Regions from separate parts of the Homo sapiens genome. Here regions 1 and 2 are each linked to region 3. Evidence: fine-mapped expression QTL. A gene starts in region 3. Each other region holds a variant in brackets. All regions are shown on one strand. Distances are between the middles of the regions.

Region 1 (8,272 bases), 100 kb after region 3:
CCTGGGTGACATAGAGAGACTCCATCTCAAAAAAAAAAAAAAAAAAAAAAAAAGGCAATTGTGCGGAGCCAACCATCACTGCCATTACACTCACATTCAATGGAAATTGATTAGGCCTGAGAGAAGGAGCAAGAGGCAGAAACACTGACTCTGAGACCATGACCTTGGAAGATCCTCAGAGATCAACTAGCCAAGTCACTCACTTAAAATGGGGAAACTGAGGTTCCAACTGACAGAAACTGAGGGTCCTGCCCTCTTCTCTGGCTCCTCAGTCTCCAGTTTGAAGCAACAGAGCCATCATTTTCCCAGTGGGAGGGGCCTCTGTGTCCTGGTCTATGATGGGGCGAGTTGGAGGGGTGGGCTTCTCTAGCCCTGCCCCCTCCCAGGAGCCCAGCCCCTCTGGCCAGGACTGAGGAGGAGTGGAGGGAAGCAGGGAGGGAGGGAGCAAGTGTGAAGGGCACAGCTGCTGGCAAATGCCCCATTCCCTGCCCCAGCACTTCCCAGCCTTTCCAGGAGCTCTGCCCCACCCCTACTCAAGGAGTCAGGTGCCCAGGGTAGGGAATAAGTCTAGGAAAGGGGGTGGAGACAGGACCGTGACAGTCTCAGGGACCAATCCCTGCCTCTGCCCATCAGATTGCCAATTTGGGGAGACAGCAATATCATCTGGGAGATTCAGCTTAATTTGCTTCAATTCAGCAACCATTTATTGAGCATCTATTATGTGCCAGGCACTGTGCCGGGCACTGGGGATATACACAAAGCCATAAGCACTGGGGACTGCCAGGTTGGCACTGTAGGGACCAAGATTAACTTTTTGGTGCATCTAATTCCACCTCTGCAAGACACTGCTTCCAAGGCTACAGTTGGGGAAGATGAAGAGATTCTAGAATCTGTGCCCTGGGAAGGGAGAAACAGCAGGGAAGAGGGGCAATACAACAGGGTCAAGGGTGCAGAGGCCAGGCAGAGTGGGTGCAGAGTGGGGGATGGGCAACCAGCCTGGTAACACCTGGGTGAGGTGAGCGAGTCAAGCCCATCTGGAAATGCTAAACTCATCAGCTCAGTACCTAACTGCCAATCAACACACTGCCAATGCGGGTGGGCTAAGCCGCCAGGATGCCTGCAGCAGATGGACGCTGCCCATCCTTGAGCCAGCCAGCTGGGGGCAGAGAGGTGGGTGGCGGGCACCTCATGCCAGCTGAGACCAAGAGTGGTTGTATACATTTCTGCAGCTTGCAGATTTCATTTTTTTGGTCACCCTTTAAGTGTCCTTCTCTCCCAGGATGAGTGAGGAGCTGTGCTGATGTTGGGAACTTATCTTTTTCCAGGATCCATAACATTTAGGGGAATTATTTGCGGGCTTTCCTAGTGTATTCTAAGAAGTTCTAACTCTCCATCAAGAAGCCCAAGATTCCTGGAGTCTTTTTTTCCTCTGCCCTGATCAACTGGGGCCCAGGAAAAGCAATGTCTCTTCACGGGCCTCAGGGCCCCAGCAGATGGGGCTGGGTCAGGAACCATCTCTGTCCCAGGTGCTCAGCCCTCATATGCATTTTCTTCTGGAGCCTCTTAGAATCTCCTCCAGAGGACTCATAGAGCTGCCTCCCCCAGGATGGTGAAGTTGGGAGCAAAATGGGGCTTCTGTAAGTAGAGGTGGAAAACCAGAGAGATGTTTCCACAGCAGCCATTTCCCTACCCTGTTTCCTAACTTATGCTGACAAGTTCTTCCTCTTCCTACCGTGGGGTTCGAGCCCCACTTCTGGTTGCATGTTCCCACCACCACGCTCTGCTGGTTTTAGTCGGCTGACTTTCTCAACTGCCCCAGCCTCTCCTGCTCTCTCAGAACCTCCCTCTGCCCCCACCCCCCATCTGTCTCTTCCTCCTAATTAAGGGCCACTGCAAAGAGAGACGGGCTGGCTAACCCATGGGATTTAGCTTATAAGAACAAAGCACAATTATTCAGGACTGAACTGCTTTGAGGTGCCTTGGAACTGGCTTTGGAAATAGCTATCTGCCCCCTAGCTATGGACTCTTCACAGTTATTTCCAGTTTATAAAAAGGAAAAGCTGATCGGATCCATGTTTCTCTCTGCGAGTCTCCTTGGGGAGGTTGGGCTGGTAAATATTTGCAAGGTCAGGTTAAGCAGACAGACAATTGAAAATACTGGGCAGGTCCAAAAGGATAGTTCCAGGCCATAGGAATGGCTTGGTGCAGTTAACGGGTGATGAAGCAAGAAATCTTCCTTCCTACTTATGTCTTAAAGATGGACAGCCTGTGTCTCTTGCTGTGCCTCTTGCTGGCGTCTTCCTTTATTGAAGCTTGCTGATGCACTGTACATAGTCTCTCTCTCTAGGTATAGATATATTATATATACAAATATCAAACATCTCACCACACCCACCCCAAAAGTTACACTGTGTGTGTGTGGGGAGGTGTAATAACTTCTCAGTGTTTTGAGTTGATTCACCAAAGGCAAATTTTGGAATGTTCTTGCGCTTTGTGCACTTGGAGGGGAAAACCCAACTACATATGCACTTTCTTGGTTGTGTGTGCTATAGAGAGGTTGGAAGGGGTGGTTGGAAGGGGAGAGAAACTGAGATGGCCCTCTGTGACTCGACTGCTGGGATGTATCTGCTTTTGGGAGCAGACTGAGTTTCTTTTGCAATTTGTCTTATTGTTTGGGTCTACTGGCAACAATAAACTATCTCCCCTGAAAATCCCTCGAGTGTGGCTTTATTCAGGGGTTCAGGGCAGGGTAGGCTGATGCTTCACCAGGATCTTAACTGGAACCCTAGGTGCTCCTTTCCTGGTAATCCCATTGGCGCTGCCAGATCTCCAGCATCTGAGGGCCTCAATGCCCCTGCCTCACAAGGGGAAGGTTGTCTACCCCACACTTGTGCCCCCACAGATGTTTCATCCCTTTGCCTTCCCCAACCCCCTGGGGACTCCGCTCACCCTGGAACAGAGTGGCTGAACACCTACTTCTTGGAGGGCTCTCGATTATTTTGGGGATGAAGACAACCCCGGAAGCTCCCAAGGCTGACTGTCATGCGGATGTTGCCTGTCCTTTGCATGGGCAGACAGGCCATCCTTCCTGCTCTGTTCCCCAAAGGTGTTGGATTAGACATTTCTTTTGCCTCCTCTGGACTCAGAAAGAATAGATGACAGCTGGTCAGAGTCTGCCCTCATGCAGTTCATGGAGAAGGGTGGCTGTGGGAAGGTTCAGGTGGCTCATGTCCCATCTACATACTGCTGGATCCTATATATATGTGCCAAAGCAGCCCTAAGAAGTTTAGGACCAAGGGCAACCTCCTGGCTAGGGGCTCCACTGTCCCAGACAGGCCTTTTTTTCTCCCTTGCTCTTCATTCTTCCGTCTCTTTGCATTTCTCCCTCTCTCCCTTGCACCGCTCTCTCTCTCTCTCTCTCTCTCTCTCTGTCTGTCTGTCTCTCTCTCTCTTGCCTAGGAGGCTTACCAGGCTTACCTTCCTCTTCCTACTCTGGGGTTCGAGCCCCACTTCTGGCTGCATGCTCCGGCCACCACGCTCTGGTGGTTTCAGTCTGCTGACTTTCTCAACTGCTCCAGCCTCTCCTGCTCTCTCAGAACCTCACCCTGCCACCACCCCCATCTGTGTCTTCCTCCTAACTAAGGACCACTGCAAAGAGAGACGGGCTGGCTAACCCTTTTCAGCAAGAAAAACCTCAACTTGCTGAATGGCAAGGACATACTTAGGTAGTTGGTTCCTACTTTTCTCTTGGTTTCTGTCTCATTCCTGTCTGCTCCCTGGAGACCCAGAGACCCTCA[C/T]CAGTGGTTAGTAGTTAGGAATACGCCAAGAGGACCTTGATATTTGTGGTTCTAATGGCTTAAAGGATGACAGCTGCCACTTGGGAGAGAAGTCAGACTGGAGGTGGCAGTGTTAAACAAAGGTGGCTGGTATTCAACAGAGCCAAAGTTCCCTTGGTTTAAAAGGATGTCTATCCCTGGAGCCTGAGTCCTGCCAAGAATGGGGTATTGCGGGGGGATGCTTCTCTACTTAACAGATAGGAACATTTGGGCGAGGGACACGGACTGAGCAGCAGAAGGCACCAGGGATTCTGGCTGGTTCCTTCCAGGATGGACACAGGCCCCTGATATTCAGCCAGGCCAGCAGCATCTTCCTCACTGGGCTTCTCCCCCAAACACTTGGTTTTGGGGACCAGGTGGCAAAGGGATTAAGGAACAGTTTGCCCCAACAGATTGAGAGTTCTTCCTACGGTCAAAGAAAAGGGAGCAAGGCCCTGGGGAAGAGGGTCTTGGTAGTCACGAACTGGGCCTGGTTTCTGGGAAGGCTGGATTTGGTTCAGGCATCTCCCCTAAATTTGGGTTCTATGGCCCAGCCTGCCTGGGGCGGGGTGGATGAATTTCGATTGCAGAACAAGCTGCCTTGGTGGGGGAAGGGATAGTTGCCACCCTGGTGCTCAAAATTATTGGTCTCCTGTGCCCCTCAATTGAGGTGGAGGTACCTGTACAAGAGCTTCCCAGTTCCCACTGGACACCCCATGCATGGGGTATCCCAGTGGGATAGCCATCGGCCTGCCCATGGATGGTTGCTAGGGAATAGGAATCTGGGCCAAAAGGATTAGGGGTGACGGAGTAGACCTTTACAACAGCAGAGATGGGAGGGCCCCCAGGAATACCTGTCAAGGCCCCTCGTTGTTCTAAAGGGGAAACTGAAGACCAGAACAGAGAAGTGACATGCTTAAGGCGACATGATGAGTCAAGTACAGACAGAGTCTGGCAGGCTCCAAGTCCGCTATTCTTCCTGCAGTCCACAGGTGCTGGGTCTAGTGCTTGACACAGCAGCATGCACCAGCCCAGACCCCTCCCCTTCCCTCCCCAGCTTGGCCTGAGTTGGTGCAGAAGAGGCACTCATGCTTCCTTAAGGGCCCAGTTTTCAAAGCTGAGGTTCAGAGAGGGAACGTGATTTGCCCAAAGTCATACAGTTGGCTAATGACAGAGCCTGGGATAGAACCCAAGTCTCTCTTCCCCCAGTCAAGGCCTTCCCTAGGCTGAGCTGATGTCCCTGGGCAAATAGGCTCATGTCCTTTGGCACTAGTTCCCAGAGTCCTGTTCCCACCCCCCATCAGCATGATGTGACTCATGTCAGTTTGCATATGGGCCCCTCTTAGGCTACTTATCTCCCTCCCATCTTGCAAGGGTGGAACGTAGTATCAAATCATCTTCAGGTGACAGCAGCCTGGGATAGTGTCTGATGGGTGCAGGCTGGGCAACTGGACACAGAACTGGACACAGAACAACTGGCAGGTCCCTACTAGGTCTCCTGGCCTTCTTCATTGGTTCTTTGGGGGCTCAGAAGGTCCGCACGGGAAGGGCTCTGCAGGAACTCTTCTCAGAAAGTCCTGGTAGCACTGCTGCCCCCGACTCTTCCTACAGAATCACACCCCAAAACCCACCATGTTTTAGTCACTCCTGGCTGCCTGCTACCAAGCTGATGTCCAGAGTGCCAGCTACTCCTTAGGACAGGCTCCAGCAGCCCAGTGGATGAGGGCTCCGGAGGGCCTGGGGAAGGAAGCCCCGCTGAGAACCACATCCTGGCATCCTGACACGGCACATGGATGTCGTGGGGGGCGGTCAGTGGAGCCTAGCCTAGGAGAAAAGGGAGCAAGGCCCTGGGGAAGAGGTGATGGGAATAGATGAGTTGGGATGGGGGAGTCGGTGGCCTGGTATGGCAACTTTGTCTTTTCTCTGGCAATAATGACCTTCAGGTCTAGGAGGTGCTGGGGAAGGAAGGGCAAGTGGGTGCCAGGCATTCAGCTTGGCTACTTTGGATCCCATGGGAGGGGCTTTCCCCTATGGCCCTGGCAAAGTCACCTCTATCCCAACCACAGTTGCCTCTGCTTCTCAAGTGGGACACATTCCCAGTAAACACGTGGCAAAGGGACTAGGAACGGTTAGCCCCAACAGATTCAGAGTTCTTCCTGTGGGCAAATGGGCAGAAGAGTAGGGTGTGTTCAGCCAGGAGGGGAAGTTGACCGATAGCGTGGCTGTTGACCGATAGAGTGGCCCAGGCTGTAGCCTCAGGGACAGGGATTAGACTTGTCCCATTCTGTCCCAAGGCAAGACATTAGGACTGGCAGGGAGAGACAGATATTCATCCAGTGTAAATCAGAGCTGTGCAGAGGGTCGAGTTTTTGAGGTAATGAAATCCCCATCCCAGAAGGTATTTAAGCATAACTTAGGGGTGTTGTTGAGAAAGTTCCTATATCAGGGCATACTTTTAGATAGCCTTTAAGTCTACTGATAATGGCCCTCTGCAGTCTTCTTTTTAGGACTCAAATCATAGAAGTGGGATAAAAGTCTTGCTTGCCTGAAGATAAGTATAACACATACACCGGCAAACATGCACACGTGTCTGGCCCTCTGCTTTCTTACTCAGTTGTGGTCTTCCCCAGGTCCCCTCTATACCCCTGTACCGCTTTACCTGGTTCTTCTGTATCTGATCTATCAGTGGTGGGGACGTGGGGGGTGTGGGTGAACCTCTATGTACAGTGAGAAATACGCTGGGAGAGGGTGGGAAATTTGAAGACAGGTGACCTTGGGGAGCTTCTTTCCAAAGATGAGGCCAAGTCTAGCTTGCCTTCCTAGGCCCACCAGCCAGGTCAGAAACTCCTGTCTTTCCAGTCAAGACTGTAGATGGAAGATACAAGTCCTCCCTGCCTCCCTATCCCTGAGTGCTCCCAGCTTTGCCAAATCTGTCAACATCTCCCTCAACTCCCCCCATAGCTTGCTCATACCCGTGCAGGCTGTCCACTGGAGCTGAGCCTGCTGGAAGGGCTAAGGGGTGGATTTCATGGCCATCTTGAACTTGAAGGGCATTGAAGGAGGAAGGTATGGGACTCTTGGCTAGATCAATAAGAAGAGCCACTGTTTACTGAGTACCTACTCTGTGCCTGGTGCTGATCTAGGTATTTGATGTATATCAGCTTACTTCATCCTTAGGGCAAGGCCCCGTCCAAATGCATTCTTTTCTCATTTTTACACATGAGGAAACAAAGTTCTGCAGTATTATAAGTATGTGTACAAACAAGGTGGCACAGCTAGGAAACAGCAGAGCCAAATTCACACTCAAGGCCTGATGAACCAAAGCCATTACATGACACCAGGAGAAAGGACAGTGAACTGGGCTCTCGCAGACCGAACACTTGTGGGTGAGGGAAGGGTGGCTTGGAACCAACCCTAAAATGACCATGGACAACAGCATAAGGGCAAAAGTGTGAGCAGAGGCCACGCTTTCCCGGCGGGCCCCTCCTGCCCACCCCTACATGGCCTGGCCCTTGGCCCCACAGCTCTGTGCAAACAGCTGCAGCATCTGCTGGCCACCTTCTCCTCCCCTGGCTTCTCGCTCCACTCCCTTCCTGCCAAAAGCCTGTGTATCCTCTGCTTCACCTACTAAACAATTGTCTCCCTGTCCCCACCCGTCCCCTTCAGCCTGAGCCACATTCCAACTTTAAGTTGCCCTCGACTCAGGAAGACTCTCCTCTGCTCCCAGGCCTCCTCTCTTCCTCTCCTCTGCCCCCCACCTTCTCTGCCGCATTTCCTCTCCAGGTCCACATCCTCCCTCTCCCCTCACTTTGCAAGACCCACTGCTCCCACATTAAAATGCTCCTAATGCATGAAACCAGAGCATCTGGGGAGTCCTGCCGGGTACTCCGCGCTGTGCTGTGCTTCTGGCTTGGCCAGTCTGTCTCAGGTGCCCATTTCAAAGCCAGGCCAGGAGGGCATCTGACTATTCAGCTGACAAGGCAGTCCTGTGAGCGGCAGGCTGCAATGAATGACAAACCTTCCCAAAGCCTCCAGTTCCCAGCCCTCCTGAGCCACCATCCTCCCTTGATGGGCAGGCAGGGGGCCATGGTGATCCATGAAGCAGAGAGAGAAATATAGCTCTGGGGTGCTGGGTAGGGTGGTTGACACCCTGTCCGGGGGCTTCAAACCCCACCCCAATGTGGCCTATAGTAAAGAGATGTCCAGGACTCACCCCATCTCGGAGCTACTGCAAGGGCAGCACATACCTTCTCCCGGAAGTGGGCACACACCCTCTCCAGCTCGGGACTGGCCGGTGAGCATCCCTCTGGTCAGGATATTTCGGCTCCCTCCTCCCTCTGCCCTCCTCCTTCCAATGAGCTCATCTGTCTGGGGCTCCCTACCCATCTCAGCCTGAAAGGATGTTTGGACAGAACCTGGCAGAAAACAGAAACAGAGGAAGGGAGGGATTGAGGAGG
Region 2 (8,000 bases), 210 kb before region 3:
TCCAGGGATGGGGCAGTTGGGCCGAGGTCCAAGTTGGTTTTTTCCAGATTTCCTCTCCCTTTCTTTATAAGTATTTTGGTTTTGACAGCTGTTGTATCCCCAAGAGTCACAGAAGTAATATCAGTCCCAGAATCATGTGATGAAGACTTCTTCCGCCCTGTTGCTTTTTTGGCAGAAGATGAAGTGGCAACATCTTCACCAACAACCTTCTCTTTGGAAACCCTACCCACAGGATACAAAGCAGAACTACTCTGAATTTCTGATCCCTTTTTCCTTTTCTCTTTCCTTGACTCCCGCTTATTCTCCTTTTCTCTCTCCCGGTCTCTCTCTCTACTCTTGTCCTTCTCCACGCTCTTGTCAGCATCTCGATCTTTGGACAGCTCCTCGGGGGCCTTGTCTTTATTTCTCCCTCTTTCAGTCTGAGAGCCTGGGGTAAACCAAGGGAAGAGAGGAGTAGGACTACTTGATGAAAATGGCTCTGCCGGAGCACTAGTCTGCTTCCTTGGTCTCTGATTTTTCTCTGCAGATTCCCCAGACTGAGTCAGGGAATGAGAAGGAAAAGTAAAAGTTGGGTTTAAGGCACTAGTGGCAAGAGGACTAACAGAAATGCTTAACGAGGAAGAGACAGAAGACGGGGGGGTGAGAGGTGAGAGCTCAGAACTACTAAGCCTTCCACTTCTTGTCCTCATGGAGTGAGAAGGAGATCTTGGTTCAGATCGAATAGGACTAAACACTTTTCTTTTCCTTTTTCTATTGGATACTCCTGAAGAAGATGTTCCAGCAGAAGTTCGATTACTAGGCAAGGTTACAGACTCAAATATTCTAGAGTGAGCCTCACTTGGAGTAAATCTTGGAGCTCTCAGAAGAGGGCTCCTTTTGTGCATATCAAACCTTGTTCCAGAATGGAGTGGCGAAAACAATCGGGCTGAAGCAGCGGTACCAGATGCAGAAAAACCAGATGCAAAGCCAACGTCCTCGGGAGTTAGTGGAGGGGGTCGGAAATTATCAAATATTGGTTTGCGAATAAGACCTTCTTTGGCATACTTTGCTGAGGAAAAGTATTGTGGCTCTGACCTAGAATGCTTTAAAGAAGTCCACCTAAATGTCGGTTCTCGCAAAATAGATTTTCGCTTCCCTTGCATAGGAGCAGTGGAAGCAGGCAAAAATGGTGATGCTAAGGGGATTGTTGGAGGCATAAGCCAAGGTGTGTGGTCAGAGATACTGGAGGCTGGCTGCAGTGGTGGCGGTGGAGTCAGCAGAGGTGGAGGTGGAGACGAGGAGGTCTGCTGCTGGGGGGCACTTTGTAGAGTTGATAATTTTTTCGTCGTTCTAGATCCAAAACTTCTCTCCGACACTGAATACCTTCTGCTTCTCCTATCATTACTCTCATTTTCTGGGGACTGGGAAATGGGCAGTGGAGGATGAACTTCAGGGGTATCGCTCCGCTCCTCAGGAAGTACCTGAATCTCCTCAGAAGCCTGAGAGTCTGTGGAGGTATCAACACTGGGGCTACTAGATCGAGAGGAGTCTGAAGACATTTGAGAGGAGTGCTGAGAAGCTGCACTTGATTTTTCAGAAGATCCACAGGACGGGGCACTGAATCTACTATTCGGTGTAGACTCTAATCGGGCAATTTTAATTGGAGGGTCATAATCCTCATCCTCTATAAACCGCCGAGGGGTCTTAATGATCCGCGAGGAGATAGCACTGACAACAGGCATGATGAACTGTCGAATATTTTTGACCTGTGTCTTCACCTTTCTTCCCTGCAGCTGAGCTGCTTCTTTTTCAATTTTCTTTTGAGCCCCCTTTTTTGCCCTCTGTAAGAGTTGCTTAGCAATGGTTGCATCTGTCCTTTTTGAAGAAGGAATAATCCTAACTGGCTTAATCCTTCGAGGGCTTTGTCTGACAACTGTCTTATCTTCTTTTGTAAGTGGAGGTGTTCCTTCCTTGTCTTTCCGGACTTTCTGGGGCTTTTCCAGTTCAGAATTAATGAGGAGACCCGAAGGGGTCTTTATCCTTTCTGTTGATGGAGGCCTTCCTCTCCGTCGTACAATTTGTACCCCCTTCCTTCCTATTTGAAGCTTCCCTGTCTTAAACTTAGACTTGAGAGGAGAGAGTTTACCTGCTCTTAATTTTTTAATCTTTGTGGCTTGCTGAAACGTAGCAGAAGGTGTCCTTTTAATTTTTTTCAGGCTATCTTCTTTGTTTCCCTTTGGTAACTCTGAAATGTCCTTTCCATGTGTTATTTTGATTTTTACTCCAGGGAAGGTGGGAGGTCTTCCTCTCTTCTTTTCTATACTTTTAGAATCTTTCTTCTTGATCTTATCTCCAGATTTGGTCTCTGATTTATTTAGAGGGGAAAACACAGATGGATCTGAGAGGATAGCTGAATTTCGGTCAGAGCCACTTCTAGGTCTCCCACGAGGTTTTCGAGGACTAGTTTTAACTGTGTATAGAAATTAAACAATGAAGAGCATATATTTAGCTGTGTAGTTTAGGTTTTAACTAAGCTGAATATAACTTAGCACTGGCCATTTTGTACTGAGTTCAACTTGAGTCTAATGAGTCAATCAAACATCTTAATTGTGCTTAGTTTCTTTTCACCCAAAATTTGCCTCAAAGAAGTCAGCAAATAACATTCCACCTGAAAGAACATTTAATTACTTTTTTGATACAAAAAGATAATAAAAAGTTTTCAGTTGAACAATTAATCCACAAAACTGATTTTCTTACAATTTTAGATGAGCAAGAAGGTTTTTTCTGAATTCAAAGGAATTGTAAAGAAAAAACATCTGAACTTCCTCGCCATATCCTAGCCACCAAGATTAACATTTAAGAATATGCTTCTAGTTAGTCATCCCATCTTTTCAATTCAGAATTCTGGCTTTGAACAAATTTGAATACGCTGCTCTTCAATCATCAACATACCAACTCCTTGGGCAGCTCAGAGTCCCATATTTCAATCTGTTTTGCCAAAGTAGACTAAGAAAGTTTTACTGAATAGAAAAATGTTCATTTATGACACATCAGAATAAGACCACTGAACTCAGTGGCATGTGAACTAATCAGTGAAGTGACATAATGTGTCCACTAAATCTACTCCCCTGCTTAGAGGTTCTTGAGCTAGTCTCAAGTTGCAAAAAGATTTAACCTTAACTGATGTCAACAGCAAAATGACAACTTATTAAATCAAAGTTCTATTCTAAATAAAAGGAATTTGCCAATTTATAAATAAGCTCAGTTTGCTGCTTTTCAAGCCATTCAAGAAAACAAGACTGTTTCTAAAACACCTTGTATAAACCTGTATTTTAAAAAGTAGTAAGACTAGGCTATTTTATCAAATCTTCTTTTCCCTTTTGATAACATTCTTCTGAGACTAAAACTTCCCTTAATAGGCACCAAAAGAGATGAACATTTTTACAATGGAACTGCTTGCTAACAGAACAGAAGTCAACAAAGGTTTTATTGTTGAGCTTTCTAAATATAAATGCATTCCTCATCAATTAATTTATGAGACTTCCTTTAATAGATTAAGGATTCACAGCTCCTTTCTCAACATATCCTAATTACAACAAAGGTAATAAACTAGGAGACAGCAGAGAAACCATGTCTCATTTCTCAAATAATGAAGCATATCGAGATGGTTTCTTAGAAAACAAGACAACATTC[A/G]AGGTAGACTGGTAGTCATGAAAAAAAACTTAAGAGGAAACTACCATGAAAAAGTTGTGAATTAACAAAATAAAACTCCTGCCCAGAGCCTGGGTGACAGAGTGAGACTCCGTCTCAAAAACAAAAACAAAAACAACAAACAAACAAAACAACTCCTGCCCGGAAATACATCAAAAGATTCCTTACCATTGTGGTAGACTTGAACCTGGCCAATCAGAGGGCTTTATCAATTCTGAAAACCTCTTCTATCCTACTTTTTAAAAAACTCTTTTGGTAGATAAGTAGAAGCAGCAGAACAGAGAAGAGTCCCAGCACTGCTGCTAACTTCCCTGATCCACAACATATCCAAAGAACTCTCAAACTGGTTATAAATCATTACTCATGTATTTCATGGACCTCATTTTTTCATCTATAAACAAACAAACAAAAATCCCAGATGATCTCTCTAATTCCTTTCCTATATGAAGTTTTAAGACTTCATCACATGTTAAAGAGAACACTGCTACTGTCTGAATAGCACAGATACTGGGACACTACTGGCCAACTGCCCCCAACTAGAATGACAATACCACTCCTCTTTAAGAAAAGAAAAACTGTCAACTTGGATGTTTGAATTAGATGATAATATATGATGACTCTTAAGTGAGACCCTAATGCTAGCACACATCACAAGCTAAGTCAATGTCAAAAAGCAGAAACAGCTAACAATATCATATTTAGCTGGAGTGTCTATCCACATAAAATCAAAGAAAACCATATATGAAGTCAGAATGGCAGCACAGATGGGGAATGCATTTTCATCAAAAGATACATAGCTTTCTCCTATACAGAACTGAATTAGGCAAGCCATTAAATGTTATTTCCATTGAGGGTCTTCTCTTAGGAAACTGCTTGTAAGTCTAGAATTTCAAGATATTCTAGATATTTTGTTGGTGAGAATAATGACAAATATTGCTAATTTTCCATTTTTTTATTTTAATACAGCCTTTCAAGAATCAGGTAAAAATGTTTCACATAATGCCAATATTTTGTTTTTGGTTCTTTGACAATAGTGGACCAAATTTCATCCAAAAAAAATAATGGCCAAATTATTCCCAAAGACATATACACTACCACATAACACAAAATGTGTAAATCTGAGGATACTCTTACTAGGTTACCTTCACTTTGCCTACCAGATTTCCCAGTAATTCTGTGGAAACCTACTTCCCATGCCCCAAGTAGTTCCCAGAGAGAAAGAATAAACCCAATGTGGCCTGATAGATAAGAGTCCCATAAAGAAGTCTAGCTGGGGGGAGGGGGGAGGGATAGCATTGGGAGATATACCTAATGCTAGATGACGAGTTAGTGGGTGCAGCGCACCAGCATGGCACATGTATACATATGTAACTAACTTGCACATTGTGCACATGTACCCTAAAACTTAAAGTATAACAATAATAAATAAATAAATAAATAAAAAGAAGTCTAGCTCATCAGCCATTTCCTAACCCAAGTATGGTAGAGCATCCTTTACATGTAAAGAAGGCAAGAGGAAGCCACAATCTCCTAACAAACAAAACTTAAAAGGCACCATGCACTTAATTGGCCGTACCTGAAGGAGACCTTGTGGGACTTCGCACTCTGACTTCTTCATCTGAGCCAAAACCTAAGAATTGCTCATCCTACAACAAAGGAAAATTATTTTAAAATCAGAAGCAAAAACGTGCATACAAACACATCCCAAAGAAATGCCCAGAGGAGACACAAATGAATTTGGAAAAGTTGCCTTTATATATTAATTATCATCATTCCAATGGATACTATAAAATAACTAATATTGAAATAAATGGACCCAGCCATACAGCTTTATTACAGACAAATAGGAGCTGTGTAGTAACTGAACAATGCATTGAAATGTCATCTTTGGTGCATAGTACACAGAGGATAGTCCTAATTTCAAACTATAGATACAGCCCAAAACAATTAAAGGACAACTTTAAATCAGGTAAGCAAATAAGTATAATGGCAGAAACATACAGCCCCAATACAACAAACAAATGCTTTTCAAAAAGTATTTAAGTCTACAGACACATAAGGAGTAATATAAACAATATAATAATCTCTTGCCTTCTAAATATTAATAGAGACTGAAAGTGCCATAATTGTCAGTTCCTTAACTCAGGAATTGACATTTAGATGTGATTTCTGTACATTTGAGATCCAGAGAGTCTCAACATGCATTTTATGGTATAATTTTAAAAATGCCTGTGATAAGAGACTTAATGGTGGGCAGCAGCGTTTGTGAAAGGGATCATGAATTGACTGCATATAGGATGAAATCCTTTACTAAAACTTAGGGAAGCATCCTATTTTCAGTTATAGTTGGAAAGGACAAAAAGCAAAAGCTTCTGCTTACCTCTAATTTTAACCTGCTCTATAAAAAAAAAAAGGATTTGTTTAACCTATTTTGCACAAGTTCTCAAGAAAGATGGTCTATTTAAACAAACTGATTAATAGAAATTCAATGATTCAGAGATTGAGTTCTTTCCAGAGACAGACACAGAATGATAGAATTTCAGATTCCAGAAACAAAATCCACATAAAACAAGAACAAAATAAGGAATGAAGAACAGACATTCTGGAACCTCCAATTTATAGTGGTAAGTCCCAAACTGAGTTCCAATGACAAAAGCATTAACATTTTCCTCTCGAGAGGTAAGAACACATGTATGTGGACAACATCAATGATTTTCTGAAGGATTATTTTCTCAGTTAATTTAAAACTAGAGTCAGGTGCTAACTGTCTTAGCCATTTTTCAGCCATGACTATATTAAAAGACATATATAACTTTTAGGACAAATTAGCAGGTTCATCTCTTAAATTTAAATGCTTTAGAGGAGCAAAACATTTAAGGCCCAGCCTTTGCATACTAGGCAACTGAGAGAAAAGTCTTACTGGCATCTAAAAAGGCTTTTGCTCTGAGATTGCTAAGATTAAAGTATTGGACTATTTAAGAAAAGGCTGAAATTCTCCTCTTCAAAGACATCTGAAAAAGTATTATAATTTTTTTTTTTTTTTTGAGACGGAGTCTTGCTCTGTCACCCAGGCTGGAGTGCAGTGGCGCGATCTCAGCTCACTGCAACCTCCGCCTCCTGGGTTCAAGCGATTCTCTTGCCTCAGCCTCCTGAATAGCTAAGACTAGAGGCCCTTGTCACCATGCTCAGCTCATTTTTGTATTTTTAGTAGAGACAGGGTTTTACCATGTTGGGCAGGTTGGTCTCAAACTCCTGACCTCAAGTGATCTGCCCACCTCGGCCTCCCAAAGTGCTGGGATTACAGGCATGCACCACTGTGCCCAGCCATGAAAAAGTATTATAATTCTAAGAATGTATGAAACCTAAATTTAAGGAACACAGACTACAGTAATTTTTTTTTTAATTACATATTTTGCTCAGGCTGGTCTTTAATTCCTGGTCTCAAGTGATACTCCTGCCTCAGCCTCCTGCATAGCTCGGACTACATACATGCACCACTATGCCTGGCTTACTGGAGTACTTTTTACAGTTTCTTCTTTCATCACTAATTTAAATTCTTACACGTAAGTTCTTTTTTTGTTGGTTTTTTGTTGTTTTTGTTTTGTTTTGTTTTGTTTTTTTTGAGGCAGAGTCTTGCTCTGTCGCCCAGGCTGGAGTACAATGGCGCCACCTCAGCCTCCCAGGTTCAAGAGATTCTCATACCTCACCCTCCCAAGTAGCTGGAATTACAGGCGTGTGCCACCACACCTGGCTAATTTTGTATTTTTAGTAGAGATGGGCTTTTGCAATGTTGGCCAGGCTGGTCTTGAACTCCTGGCCTCAAGTGATCCACCCACCTTGGCTTCCCAAAGTGCTGGGATTTACAGGCGTGAGCCACTGTGCCCAGCCAGTTCTTTTTACTTTAAAAAAATTTTAAGTAAATTCTTACTGTGAACATTATTTGTGAATAAGAAAAATTCTCTCTTGGCCAGCACAGTAGCTCATACCTGTAATCCCAGCGCCTTGAGAGGCCAATATGGGAGGACTGCTTGAGGCCAGGAGTTCAAGGCTAGCCTGGGCAACATAGTGAGTCTTTACAGAAAATTTTAAAATTTGCCAGTGCTCACTCTGTCACTCAGGCTGTACTGCAGTGGTGTGATCACGGCTCACTGCAGCCTCAAACTCCTGGGCTCTAGCAATGCTCCTGCCTTAGCCTCCTGGGCAGCTGGGACTACAGGCATGTACCAGCACTCAGCTAATTTTAAAATTATTTACAGAGACGGGGTCTCACTATGTTGCCCAGGCTGGTCTCAAACTTCTGGGCTCAAGTG
Region 3 (8,272 bases):
CTGGGAGTCCCTGAGTCTTTGGAAAACAGATGTTAGGTCTACACTTTCATTCTGGCTCATAAGCCAGGAGCCCAAACGAAAGCCAGGAGAGTAAGTGGTCGTTGGTGTCCCAAGACTTTCCTTCTTGTTTTTAATGGTTCTGGGAAATACCAAAGTAATTCTACTTCTAGGGATGCTCTTCTTGGGTCACATATTAGCCATCCCCAATGGGTATATTTGTTAGGATCAAGTCCACACTCCTTAGGATGGTGGATGAGGGCACTGCCCAGGTGGACCTAGCCTCTCACCTGGCCTGCCACTCCTCCCTGTGCTCCAGGTTTGAGGAATTGCATGCTAGTCCCTGTGGGTACCACATTCCCACCCATTTGTTCCAATGGGAAGGACTTTGTTTATCCTCTTTCCAGAATTCCTATTCATCCTTTAAGGATTGAATTTAAAAATCAAGAAAGTGATAATTATTTGTTTACTTCACCTTCCTATCTTATATTATTTCCTCCCAGGTAGAAATATTCTATGTATGTCTGAATTTTTTCTAGTAAAAACATATGAACAGACACTTTTGAGTAAACGAATGCTTTATTTGATGACCCTAAGAGCTAAATTATTTGTTTTCCTTGCTTCACAGAATGCTAATTTCACCTTAGGTGAAAAAAAGATTTTTGCCTAGGAGGTTGAGAAAGACAACTTTTACAAATATTGATACAGGCCCACTGTCCCTTCTGTCTCCTGAGCCCCCAGTGAGTCTCCTGCTGGCTAAGGTCTAGATACTCACTAGAAATCATTTTTTGGGAAATGTGTAGATGGATGGGACAGATGAGATTCTTTCAAAAACTATTGGTATGTCACAATTTTAAATGACAATCAGGATCTTTCTCTGGAAAAGTTTAGAAAGAAAATGGTGTCTCTGAAAACTTTACTTTTCTTCTTTTCAATTTCCAGAACTCCTCTTCCTTTCCTTCCATTTGCCTGGGCACAAACATAACTTAGGCCTTATGTAGATGCCTGCAGTTTTGGTCTAAGTCCTGCTGACTGGTGTCCAGAAAACTGTGAGGGGCAAACATCCTTTTTATTTAGCATTTTCTCTTCTTAACCTTCTACCCTTGGCCTCTTCCTTGCCCAGTGAGGTGAAGTGGTTGACTGTGGAGCCACTCCTGCTAACTGGAAGGAACTGGGCGTTGCCAGGCACTAAGCCAGGAACTTGAACTCAGCTGAGAAGTGGGATCTGGATAACTCCTGCCCCTCAGAGCAAGGCTGGCAACCAGCTCATGGGTGTTTGGCTACCTGGGGGAGGGATTTCTGCTCCTGACAACAGGCAGTTTGTTCAGTTCTTCCTGCCCTGATTCTTCTCCTGTTGCTTTTCACTGCATCCCTGAGCTCTTTGGTAACTCTACCTCTCACCAGTTTTTGCAATTTGCTGTAGACTTCAAAATCCTGGCTCTACCTCTCCTTCCTCTGTAGCTGTATTTCCCTGCAAAGTTGGAAGCCAACCAAGATCAAGTTTCCTTAACTCTTTTTCTTTCAGGGTCCTGGAGCTGAACTCTTCTGACCTACATACCAGAAAGGCTGTATCTTATCCTTCCTCACCAACATCTGAAAGGTTCCCCCAGCAGACTGATTTTAGGTCCCTTTCTGAACTAGAATCTGACAAAGACGCCACACAGTTTTCAGAAACTCTCACCATGCAACAGATTTTCACTAGCACACAGCTGGTCTGCATTTGGGGCCACCTCTGCTTTCTGAGTTCCAACACAATGGATTTTTGTGGTTGTCTACCTGTTTTTGCTCCATGCCCATGTCATCTTTCTCCTGTTGCTTTCTGTTTTCTGCACTTCTGCATTCTCCTCTCTTTTGGTAGAATTTTCTCTTTTCTTCCCTCTTTATGATGTTTTATTTTTTTCTACTCAGCCTGCCGCCTTCTCTTGTTCCTGCCACCCTTTCTGCTCTGGATTCAGCTAGAAGATTTTATGAGTGACTGAAGAGTTTCTAGACTGCTAATCCAGGGATAAACGCAATCTGTCTTTTTTCAGGGTTAGATTCCCAGCCCAGCCTACTTCTTAACTGCATGTGTAATCTTCATCCCCCTCCTACCGATGTTTCTGTGCCGCTTCATTAATCTGTAAAGATGACCCACCCTCTTTCCAGACAAGGAGGCATCTTTTCTCGTTTAGATTCCTCAGCTCTTTAGACTTCTCAGTCATTTAGCTATTCAAAAAATGACAGATGAAATCCGAGGCACAACAAAGTTATCATGAAAACCTTTTCCTTGAGAGCCCCATGTCTGATTGTTCATATTAGCTGTTATTTGGTGGAAAGAACGCTAGATTTTTAAGAAAAGTTCTGGTTTTGCCACATGGTAGCTGTGCAACCTTGGGCAAATCATTTACCTTCCTCGGGTTCTTAGCGTCCTCACTGGTAGAATGGGAATGCTTCACAAGGGCGTTAATGGAGATGAAACAATCAGCAGGAGAGCACTTTGTAGATTGCACTCGGATGGCAGGGTGAATGAGCAGGGATGGTGTCCTCATTTGTTTTTAAAGTCTTCAAAGGTAAAGGATTGTTAAGCATGGAGATTTGATTTGTTGTTTCTGCCAGGTCTCCTGGAAAGCTACAAACTAGAAGAAGTGCAGGAATCCTTGTGGTAACAGGGGTATCAGCTTTTTGTCCACAGAGGGTCCTAAGGAATTCCGACTCCCGTTTTGAAATTGTATCGAATCCAGTCCCAAGTGAATGTGGCCCTGGGGTGGTGCTTTGAGAAGTGGAATCACTGCAGGACAGTTTCAACATTCACTTCCCAGGCAAGCCTAAAGCCTGTTTTAAAAGGGCGTGTGGGGGCCAAACCCATAACAGTCTGGGACATTTCAGACTGGCACCACCTCCTCTGGCTGTTTCCGAGGCCATCTAGAGGCCAGAGCCCAGTCAGATTAACTGAAAGTAAAGAGAGGACTGCGGGAGTTTGGGACCTTTGTGCAGACGTGCTCATGCTCGTTCGTGTAGAGGGCGGGAGAGAGGAAAGGAAGGAGGGCATTGGGAGCTGAGGCCCCACCTTTCATTTCAGAAAAGTGCACAGGCAGAGCGGGCTGAGTCACAGGCACAGGTGAGGAACTCAACTCAAACTCCTCTCTCTGGGAAAACGCGGTGCTTGCTCCTCCCGGAGTGGCCTTGGCAGGGTGTTGGAGCCCTCGGTCTGCCCCGTCCGGTCTCTGGGGCCAAGGCTGGGTTTCCCTCATGTATGGCAAGAGCTCTACTCGTGCGGTGCTTCTTCTCCTTGGCATACAGCTCACAGGTAAGAGCCGGCGGGCTTCTCTCAGAGTTTCCTCCTTCACTGCTCACTCTATAAAGTTAGCTAATTGTCTTAGAAGTTGCAAGACTTTTGTTTGGGAGCCTGAGCCACAGATACAGTTTGTTTTACTTTGGGTTTTACTGAAACCAAAGTTGGTGGACTGTTTTTGGAGAACTGCTCTCGGACAAACAGGTTTAGGTGTGTTCAGCTGCCAGTGATTCAGGCACAGAGAGGGCTTTCTAATCTCAGGTTACATGCCATTTTTTTGTGTGTGGCTGTTCTCAACCTCCCACTGCTGGCAGGACTTGGCATTTGGATTTCTGTGTGTGGGTCTTGTCTGTGACTCTCAGCAACACCAGGAAAGTGGAGATTGTTAGAGAGAGACCTACTGTGATTTTGAAAGTGCCCCAACACACACATTCTAAATGTAAATATCAAGTTTAAAAAAATGCCACGTGGTACAAAGGTTCTAGGGGTGCAGGCAAACATAAGCTGTCTGGAGTTGATTAATTCAGTTTCTGCAATAGACTAGTAACAGTATGAAATCCACCTAAGGACCCATCTGGAAAACTTACCTGCTAGGAGACCACTTTACATACAACACATAATGCTTAACCTTAATACATAATGTAATGTCTAATCAATGTTATGATTCATTTTAATTTTTTGTTTATGCTTTCAATTCTATTTGCGGATGTTTGTAGTTTGTTATAACAGTTTTGAAGTCAGTACCACGAGGCGAGGCTTTAATGCTGTGGAGAAAGTAAAAGCACTGCGAAGGCTTGCTGTGTGGTAGTTTAGTTGTCACATGGAATGGGAGGGTCCAGGCTGCATACAGGTAGGAGTATGTAGATTCTGGGTGAAGTAAGTTTGGGAGATGGGGCATCTCAGTTTCACTTTACTTTAAGTCCTACTCAGATATTTATTTTGGAAGTGTCAGCAGAAGTTCTCACAATACTACATCCCCTGTTAACCCTTCTTTTTCTTCTTTTTCATTGCAGCTCTTTGGCCTATAGCAGCTGTGGAAATTTATACCTCCCGGGTGCTGGAGGCTGTTAATGGGACAGATGCTCGGTTAAAATGCACTTTCTCCAGCTTTGCCCCTGTGGGTGATGCTCTAACAGTGACCTGGAATTTTCGTCCTCTAGACGGGGGACCTGAGCAGTTTGTAAGTAGATTATCATCATTTTCCAGGGTACTCTTGTTTAGGGAAATAATAAGCCAGTCCATTTCTCCTTTCCCTTCCAGTATTTTTCTTAGCAGCAAGCACAAGGTTAAGCTCGGAAACAATTCTTGGGACAGAGACTGAGAGGCCGTTGAAGGGGAAAGCAAGTGACAGAGCTGCAGACAGGACAGTTGGGTTTGCTGGTGTTTCACTTCCGCTCCCACCATCTTGGCCTCCTTGCCTGGGTGCTGAGTAAGAAGACCTTTTGCCATTTCCCCTCTCTAGGTATTCTACTACCACATAGATCCCTTCCAACCCATGAGTGGGCGGTTTAAGGACCGGGTGTCTTGGGATGGGAATCCTGAGCGGTACGATGCCTCCATCCTTCTCTGGAAACTGCAGTTCGACGACAATGGGACATACACCTGCCAGGTGAAGAACCCACCTGATGTTGATGGGGTGATAGGGGAGATCCGGCTCAGCGTCGTGCACACTGGTAGGTTATGCAGGGAACAGTGGTTTTGGAAAGGATGAGAGCTTGTAGAAAAGAAAGGGGCAATCTTTGTTAAGGCTGAGAGAGAGGGACAATCTTTTGTGATGGATAGAGAGAGGGACTAGCCCTTCAGAACTGGGAGCCTCAGAGGGAGACCGAAGAGTTCTGGGGTAAAAAGAGAAAGGCTTTGTTTGGCTGTGGAAAGAAACAGAAAGTAAAGCAAAGGAACTCAGAGAATCCGTTACAAAAATGGCATTGAGATTGTGAAAGGGAGAGGGAGCAATTCTTTGATGAAAGGCTTACAACAGGTCTGTTCACTCACTCATTTATTCGAGATACTTATTGAGTACCTACTCTAATGCTAGGCACCGTCAAAAGTGCATGACATACACTATCTCATTGAATCCCCACACCACTCTAGGAGGCAGGTACTAATGATGGGAGCTAACACTTACTGAGTACTTCCCAAATGTCAGGGGCTTTACATGACACATTTTATTTAATCTTTACATATCTCATCAGTTTATTGTGCATTTAATGCCTCCCATCTTGCCAATGAGGAAACGAGGCTCACAGAGGTTAAGTCATTTGCCCTGAGTCACGTAGCTGATAAATGGAGTAACTTAGGACTCAAACCCAATCAACTTTGAATCTAAAACTGTGCTCTAAATTGGTGCATTGTATTGTCTGCATCCCTATAAAGGACAATCTGGAAAACCATGCCAAGCAACAAAGAGCAAAGTACACGAAACTTATGAATTGTAGATCTGGGTTTGAGTCATTGCTACCATTTACCAGCTATCAATAAGTCTTATTTTCCTCATCTGTAAAGTGAGAATAACACAGTAAGGATCACAGTGAGGATAAAATGAGATAATAAATGTGAATATGTCCCAACCTCTGAATTGTACTTAACAGCTACCATACATTGAGTGTTTATTTTGTACAGGCACAGCAAGGAACAACTTACATGAATTATTTTATTTTTTATTAAGAACTCAAGAAATGAATATCATTATCTCTGTTTATACATGAGGAAACTGAGGCTCAAAGAAGTTAATTACTTCAAATCACACAGCTAAGTATTTCAACCTAGTGCTCTCTGGTGTGTGCTCTTAACCAACACTACTCCAAACATATAAGCCTGTGCAGTGGTACGATTTCCTTTCATTCATAGTACAGTTTAAAACCATTTCTCAATGCCCCACCAATAGAGGGCTGTGTGACCTTGCAGAAGTCATTTGAGTATTGAAAGAAATAATGTAATGGTTTTGGACCTCAGTTTCTTCATCTGCACAATGAAGAGGTTAAACACACAAAAAATCAGTGGTTCTTAAATATATGTGGATAATTATTCTTTGAGAATCAAATAAAAGCCATGGCCCTGCTTCCCATAAAACAGTGGAGACATACAAAATGAGACTTGGATTCTGTGGGCTTGCAGACTACCTTCCATCCTCTTCCCCATCCTCCTTCATGGAGTCAAGGCTGGGAATCCTGGGCTAGACATTCTCTAATGTCCTTTCTGGCTCTGAGGGCTTATGGAAGTATAATCAGAAATAAAGCTAAAGGACAAGAAAACCAGGGTTCACAGACTCTAGTGTGGCTTAGGGGACCTTCCCTCTGGTTTCCCTTTTCCATCATTTATCCACTAGACTGTAGCTTCTGATTTACTTTCCTATCCTCTCAGTGGCATGAGCTCCTTGAAGGTGATGTCTTTTTTGGCTCAGCATTTCTATCACAGTGCCAGGAATGTAGTAGGCCCTTAATAAATCTGAATAAATAACTGACTGAGTGAAAGTGGTGAGAAGTCAGGGAGAAATGGGTTGGGCACTACGTTTGATGAGGTTAGCAAAAACCTTACCCCATAAGTAGTTCAACCCACCCAGTGGTTTTCAAAGCTGCATCAGAATCACCTGGAGGACCTGTTAAGACACAGATTGCTCAGCCGCACCTCTAGTGTTTCTAATTCAGTAGGTCTGGGGTGGGGCCTAAGATTTCCATGTTCTCAAGTGATATTGTTGCTGTTACTTCGAAGACCACACTTTGAGAACCATTAAAGTATGTGTATGGTTTTCCTATTGCTAGTAGGATTCACAAGGTAATATATTATTTTATGCATAAAGGTAGGATAAAGGAAGATTCCATCTATTGATTAAATGCATCCCTATTATGTCATTAGATTTCATTGTAGTCCTCTTCTTTTTAGAATCCTAATTTAATCTTTTTCTCCTTACAGTACGCTTCTCTGAGATCCACTTCCTGGCTCTGGCCATTGGCTCTGCCTGTGCACTGATGATCATAATAGTAATTGTAGTGGTCCTCTTCCAGCATTACCGGAAAAAGCGATGGGCCGAAAGAGCTCATAAAGTGGTGGAGATAAAATCGTAAGGCTGGGCAGTTCTGGGAAAGTTCTAACACTCTTATGGCGACTCTTGGTATTTTGCAGTGGGCTAAATAGTTGCTGAACAGATGTTTTTCCCTTTAAGTAAATCCTATATAAAAGAATTCACATTTGCAGGACAGATAAATCAGGTATGAACTAGTAACTTTACAAAAGCTTTCTTAATTTTACAAAATATTTCCTTATGGGATTTCTTTACTATGTGGGGGGGTTGATTTTACAAAAATGTGCTATGTAAAGCTTTTCTAAAAAATCCCTTATGTTTAAAGTGAAGCATACATTTGTAAAAACCACTGGGCTAGGCAGTCAGCAGGGCCACTATGAGTCAGGGCTTAGGAAAGTCTGTTGTGCTGATAGCAGGTGTTCATTAAATGTATTTTAAAATTGAGATAAAATTTACCCACCATAAAATTTACCTTTTTCATTTTCACAAAGTTGTGCAGCAATCATCACTAATTGCAGAACGTTTTTAAGCTCCCTCCCGTAAAGAAACCCCATATCCCTAGCTATCACTCCCTATTATCCCCTCCTACCAGCCCCCGACAACTACTCATCTACTTTCTGTCTCTATGGATTTGCTTATTCTGGACATTTCATTTAAATAGAATCATACAATATGTGGTCTTTTATGCCCAGCTTCTTTCACTTAGCATAATGCTTTCAAGGCTCATCCTTGTTGATGTATTAGTATTTCTTTCCTTTTTATGACTGCATAATATTCCATTGTATGAATATACCACATATTGTTTGTCCATTCAATTGATGGGCATTTAGGTTTTTTCTGCTTGTTGGCTGTTGTGACTAATGCTGCTATAAACATTCATTTACAAGCTTTTGTGTAGATCATATGTTTTTAATTCTCCTAAAAGTGGAATTGTTGGGTCTTATGGTAACTCTGTTTAGTTTTTGGAGGAATTGCCAGACTGTCTT

The links. PIP is the estimated chance that this variant, and not a neighbour inherited with it, causes the effect.
Region 1: its variant is fine-mapped to the expression of MPZL2 in whole blood (INTERVAL, PIP above 0.99).
Region 2: its variant is fine-mapped to the expression of MPZL2 in whole blood (Lepik 2017, PIP 0.95).

The regions. Positions count from the first base shown.
Region 1 is chr11:118,157,245-118,165,516 of GRCh38, reverse strand. It overlaps SCN2B (sodium voltage-gated channel beta subunit 2), which reads left to right. Exons shown (of 4, transcript NM_004588.5): 4 at 1-2,711. Among named protein-coding and RNA genes, the nearest start is that of SCN4B, 8.6 kb to the right of the region's middle. The variant C/T (reference allele first, on the strand shown) is at 3,798.
Region 2 is chr11:118,466,111-118,474,110 of GRCh38, reverse strand. KMT2A (lysine methyltransferase 2A) reads right to left here. Exons shown (of 36, transcript NM_001197104.2): 2 at 5,267-5,336; 3 at 1-2,449. Among named protein-coding and RNA genes, the nearest start is that of KMT2A, 34 kb to the right of the region's middle. The variant A/G (reference allele first, on the strand shown) is at 3,673.
Region 3 is chr11:118,259,107-118,267,378 of GRCh38, reverse strand. It overlaps MPZL2 (myelin protein zero like 2), which reads left to right and starts at 3,082. Exons shown (of 6, transcript NM_005797.4): 1 at 3,082-3,283; 2 at 4,282-4,448; 3 at 4,731-4,941; 4 at 7,178-7,325. The coding sequence starts at 3,226. RefSeq lists an enhancer at 3,281-3,330.